Regions from separate parts of the Homo sapiens genome. Here region 1 is linked to region 2. Evidence: fine-mapped expression QTL. A gene starts in region 2. The other region holds a variant in brackets. All regions are shown on one strand. Distances are between the middles of the regions. Region 1 overlaps KIRREL3 (kirre like nephrin family adhesion molecule 3). Region 2 holds the start of KIRREL3 (kirre like nephrin family adhesion molecule 3).

Evidence for each region.
Region 1: its variant is fine-mapped to the expression of KIRREL3 in whole blood (TOPMed, PIP above 0.99).

Annotation. Positions count from the first base shown.
Region 1 is chr11:126,465,146-126,468,049 of GRCh38, forward strand. The region is part of intron 5 of KIRREL3 (kirre like nephrin family adhesion molecule 3); the gene reads right to left. Among named protein-coding and RNA genes, the nearest start is that of KIRREL3-AS1, 77 kb to the right of the region's middle. RefSeq lists enhancers at 542-601, 1,149-1,698, 1,699-2,246. The variant T/C (reference allele first, on the strand shown) is at 1,419.
Region 2 is chr11:126,999,481-127,002,384 of GRCh38, forward strand. It overlaps KIRREL3 (kirre like nephrin family adhesion molecule 3), which reads right to left and starts at 1,290. Exons shown (of 17, transcript NM_032531.4): 1 at 975-1,290. The coding sequence starts at 1,029.

The DNA of each region.
Region 1 (2,904 bases), 530 kb before region 2:
TACTAGGAAGGAACCTCACTATGGGTGCAGTCCTGTTTCCCCCGACTGGAGCCAGGGAGTAGATGAACAGACCACTCCTCCCTCAAAACCTCCCATAAAGTGACAATGGCAATGTCTCTAATTCTTATGAGGGCCCCGGAAGACAGCAGCATTATCTTTGATTAGCCAAAGAGAAACCTGTGTTCCAAGTGAGCCGGGAACTTGCTGGGTGGAGCTAGGATTTGCACTTAAGAATGGGTGAACCCTGAGCCACAGCCTCTGCTGCAGCCCCGGGGGTGCTGGACGGTGGGTACCGTGCTCTTGGCAGGACAGATGGGAACAGTTAGGGCCACAGGGAGAAACCTGTAAGCTCCTAGAACCCCACATTCTGGGTCCTTAATTCAGTGAGGTTTTTCTCAACTTGGGGCAAACCTCGTGGCGTCAGGAGAACAGGGCCAGAGCCTCTATATAGAACAGCACATCTTGCTGGAGGCAAAGCCGGACTGTGACATTCTAGAGAGCCACGCGGTGCAGCTGCAGGCCTGGGACTCAGGGTGCCAGCCACGGCCCTGGGCAGAGGGGCTGGAGGAGAGTGACGTGGCCAGATGCAGCAAGCCGGGGGCAGGACCACTGCAGAGGAGTGAAGTTGAACCCCAAGCCAAAGCCCGGGCAGGGAGGGAGCAGCAGCTGGCACCGCTTTACCACCCTGCCTTGGGCTCTTCAGCAGACCTCATCGAGTCTATAAATAGCCAAGTGATAATAAGAACAATTTCCTGGATGAAACTAAGACTTCGGGTAGGGCGCGCAGGGGCGGGGAGGTGGTGAGGAGCAGGTTGGTATTCTTCTTCTCTTCTTTACATTTCCGTTGTGCTAACAAGGGACATTTACATAAGCTTGACTCTGCCAGGAGCCCTTCCAACGGATGGGCTCTGGGCGGTGGGTGCCAGTGGCAGGGGAGGGAGGGGACCCAGCTCTAATTAGGCCCTCTGACTGCTCCCCCTCCTCCCTGCACCCAGCGTGCTCCTCCGCCTCGGAATGATGATTAATGACATATTTACTGGGTCCAGGCGTGTGCTTTTCTGGGAAATAAAAATTCTGGTTCAAGTTGTTTGTTCCACCTAATTAGAGAAAAAGGGAGATGTGTTCATTAAACAAAAGGAGGGTGAGGGGAAGGCACGTGCCCCAGCACCAACACCCTCTCTGTCCCCGTGGAAGGTCCCAGCACCTCCTGGGCCCCTAGCTCGCGGGGGACCCCAGGCCCCGTGCAGCGGGTATCCCAGGGAGGAAGGCTGGGTCTGCCAGCTCTGCTGCAGGACGACTGAGGGGAGGAAGGTGGGACAGAGCTGGGGGGCCCAGGGGGAAGGCTGGAGGGAGCCCTGCACCTGCAGGACAGGGCGGGATGTGGAGGGGCACGGGGGATCTGCACCCCCGGGTTTCTC[T/C]TCCCCCATTCCTTTCTGATCTCGCCTCTCTTGTTTCTTTTGCTTCACTCCTTTTCAGAAATGAATCTCCCCTAATTGTCACTTTTCTCATATGCAAATGGAGCCTCTGGACTTTGCAGCCTTGAAGGTACTGTCCAGGAGAACATTCTATCATCTGCAGGTTCTAGTCGCAGCTCCACTCCGCCCCTCCCTTCCCTGCTTCCCTTCACTGAGCTTGGCTCTGGGGACACACCATGGGCATTGAACCTCCCACCTCCTGCTTCAGAAAGCTTCATGCCTTGCAGGTGAGCTCCAGAAGGAAGTGAGTTATTCATGGTGGGCCACTCACTGTGGGAGCCACCGCCTCCAAGGCCTCCCTCCAGTGTGGTGAGCACTAACGTGCTGCCAGCCCCCGGCTCGCCCAGGTTGCCCATGTGACTGCCATGGTGGCTCCCAAGAGTCCCCGAGGACCCAGCTCCTGTGTGTGCAGATATGGGCCAGGGGCAGGCATATAGATGGCGTGTGTGCAGCATGTGTCCGGGAACGAGCGTGCCAGGGCATACACCCCCGTGGGTATGTGCGCGTACCTGTTTTTGTCTTTGGGTGTTCATGGGCCTCTGTCCACTGACTGCCGTGACTCTGCGGGGCCCCAGGTTCTCTCTGGACGCTGCCTGCTCAGGTGCCGCCTCAGGGCTGTGCACCCACCCCCACTGCCCCTCCCTAAGGGCAGGGATTTGGCACTCACTTCTCTAGTTCCCCAGCACCGGCCTGGGAGGCCGGTCTTCCCAGGTATGGTTGTACACAGTGTACCCCACCCCATGGTTTTCCTGCTTGGGTGGCAGTGGCTGGCCACTCTGCTCTTTCCAAAGCCCCCAGGGCCTCCTCTGGGCAGTGGAGAGCCAGGCTGAGCTCTCGGAAATGGGTGGGCTGGAGGGCAGACAAGGGGTGGGGGCCCAAGCACTGGTGCTAAATATGGGGTGCCCGATGACAGGCAAACCGTCTGGAAAGGCCGAGAGTAGCCTGATTGCCTGGCAGCAAGGCCGCCTCGCTTCTCCCCGCTACTCACCTTCCCCACCTGCTGGGTCCCTTTTTTTTTTTTTTTAAAAAATCATGGCTCTGCTTCCCCTTTTGATAGCTGCTTGGGGCTCCCCATGGGCTGGTTGCCACCTGGCTTGAATAAGGGTGTGTGGGCCAGGTGGAGGATGCGCAGTGCTTTTTGCCCCAGTCCCTGCATCCAGCCTTGAGGCCAGAGGCCAGAGGGGTGCCCTTCACAGAGAAGGCCAGGATGAGCCTCGGCCACACCCAGTGGAGACTCTAGGCCCCTAAGCTGGGCAGATAGGTGCAGGGTGATGGGTGAGTGACCAGGGAGGGGGTGCCCAGTGGAGGGTGAGGGCCCTATGCATGTGGGCACTTATCCCTTTCCTGAGTGGGGTCTCCAGAGCTCCTCTTAGCAAAGGTGGTAAAAGGCGAGGCCAGTGGTCCTGGTGGTAGGGGTAGAGGGCAAGGG
Region 2 (2,904 bases):
TGTGGATTTTTTCTGAGTCTTGCACCTCTAAGAGCTGTGTTGGCTGGCACAAATGCAGCCTCAGATGGCAGAGGTGCATTGGCATTCCAAAAGAGCGGGAAGGAGCCCATGTACTTGCCCCTCCAAACTCAATTCCACAGGTGACTTTTGATGCCTTTGGCCAACTAGGCACTCACATTCCCTCTCCCGAATTTCCCTCTCCTTTCTGCACCACTACCAGCCCCAGGGCTCCCAGTGGCAAGGAGCCTAGAGGTGGCAAAGTTCTTTCCGGAGAGTCCACCTGCTTCTCTGCCCCTGCTAGGCTGCAGAAAGGAAACCATCAGCACCACGGGCGAAATTTCATTTTATACCCTGAATTCAGTGCTGTGTAGGATTCAGAATTCAACCTAATTTAGGGAACTCGATGACGTTCAATGAAACTCTTTACAAGCTTTTCCCAACCACTGCAAATTACCCCCCACAATACATTCTGTAATTGCAACCCCCTTTTCAACGGTGCAAACCACACACATTCGCTTTTGAATACACTTGTGCAAGTCAAACCCTATTCAAGCTGAAATATCCACCTAAACCAAGCTCTCCCTCCCTGCCGTCTCCTTCCCTGGCCTGGGTCTGAAGGAGAGGAGGTGCCCAGAAGTTCAGAGCGGCATAACCACAGAGATACTACCTAATTAACATACCAGAAGCATAAAGAACTCATTTGCATTGGAGAGTTTGAGCTGGATATTGACAAGTGAGAGGAGAAAGTCATTCCCCTCCCCTCCCATACCCCTTCTTTCCAAAGGAAAATAAACAGTACCATTTTGTTGCATTCGCAAAGGCGAAGAGGCAATGCCAGAGCATCTCAGCCCGGCACCGAGAGACGCATCCATCAGTCCGAGTTCCCGAAGCCTGCCCACGTTCCTGCCCACAGCCTCCCGCGCCCTGACAACCCAGCCGACTTTCTTCCAACTCCAGCAGCGCAGGGGTCCTACCTTGACTGAAGAGGAAGAAGCAGACGAAGAGCAGATCGAGCTGGAAGGGTTTCATTCCTTAGCGCAGCGAAGGAAAGCCGGCGGGGTAACTTGGCTGTGGTTAGTTTCTCTTCCTTGGCGGCTCTCGGTGCTCAGCCTCCGCCGGTCCTCTCGGGTTCGCGCCTACCATCTGTCCGTCCGTGGGTCCCTCCGGGTGGCTTCGGTCTCTTTGTGCCTCTGGGTATCTGCAGCCAGCCGACACAAACTGCCTGTTCTTAGCCGCCTCGGGAAGCCGGGATTGTCAGCAATGTCCCCACTCGGAGAAGATCCATTCTCTGGCTCTTGGCATCCCAGGCACACGGCTTCCTCAGGCGGGCTCCTCCCACAGTGAGCGAGCGAGCTAGTGACGAGTGACAGAAGGACTCCTTTCACTGAAGCTGAGGCGAGGGGAGAGGGAGGGGAGACAGGTCATAATTAAAGAGGAAACACTCGGAAAAAGGAGATCTATGCAAAACGGACAGTGGGGGAAAAGGCTGTGTTCTTTCTTTTCCCTAAATAGGGAAAAATTCAGCTTTTGTCACCATTATTGACCAAAAGGCATCTTGAGCTTGGAGTGGAGCTGTGACTTTTTGTCCACACGATGTCCTGTTTAACAGTGAAGTTAAGGATGACTATCCACATGCATGTGCACAAAAACATGCACGCCCTGCCTTTGCAAAGGAACTGGAAACTGGGCTGAAAGGGAACTAGGAAGGGGGGGTGCGCATCTTTCCCTCGGAAGGACTTGGCCAATGTGTGCAGCGGGAGGCTCGGAGTTGGAGAAGAGATAAGCATGCTTTGCATTTCTGAGAGTTTCCTGTGGGTGGGTGGGTGGTTGTGGTGGGGGGGGGGGGTAGGTAATAAAACCTGAACATTTGGATCTTAGTTTGCTTTGCACTGCTCCTGGAAGACAAAATGCAGGAACTAAAGGGAAGGCAAGTAGGCTTGTGACACACACCCATTTATTATCATTATCCTGGTTTGTGCATTTCCTAACGAGGACAGGGGAGCAGCCTGTCTTTGCATTCAGAGCCTCTCCTCTAATGAGCGCTCCATCACTCTGAGCCTGTCTTTTCTCCAAGAGGTGCTGTGAGTCCAATTGCAAAGGAGAGGCCAAGGTCATAGACAACTGCGTCCTAAGGATCTTCAAGCCTTTTACCTGTCATGAAATTCACACTCCACACTCAAATCAAACTCGGTTTCCTCCAGGATATCAACATGAATTTATCTGGGTCTATTTACTTAATAGACATTTAGGCATGCTTGGTATAAGCAGGCCATGGAGGGAAGCAAAATAATAGGCACAGACCATGCCTTCAGAAGCTCATAATCTAGTGTGCAAGCAGAGTACACACACAAGATGCAAACTCTAAGGACATAACAAAACAACACAGAAAAATATTCAACGTTATGCACTGTGAGAAGGAGAGGTAAAGAGAGAGGAGAGGAAAATGAAAGACGCTCCCCTGACATGTGCCATTTAGCATTCAATTCTAAAATCAGTCATTACTGTCTTCAGTCCCTGGACCTTGGGGAGGTCTTTTGGGAAACTCTTAGCCTTTCCTCTTTCAGTAGTAGCACATCTTTTGAGGACTCTGCTCACTACAAGGCACATTCCAACTCCAAGTTTCCATGCGGATGTTAACTTTAAAAAATTATCCCTTGGTATTTGTGAACAAGAAAGAAAGAAGCAGGGGCATATAGAAGTGTGCTAGTAGGAGCTGACATCTGGTAGTTGACACCAAAGATCTACAAATTAGTAGGTGTCTGCTTTGTTGACTTTTCTATTCTTAACTTAATAGTTTATTTAACTGCATCCCTTAGAGGCTGTTAAACACAGCAAAGGGAAATTTGTAAGCAAACTTTGGGAGGAGAAACAGAAATGTTGAGCAACAGAAACTAAAAGGACACA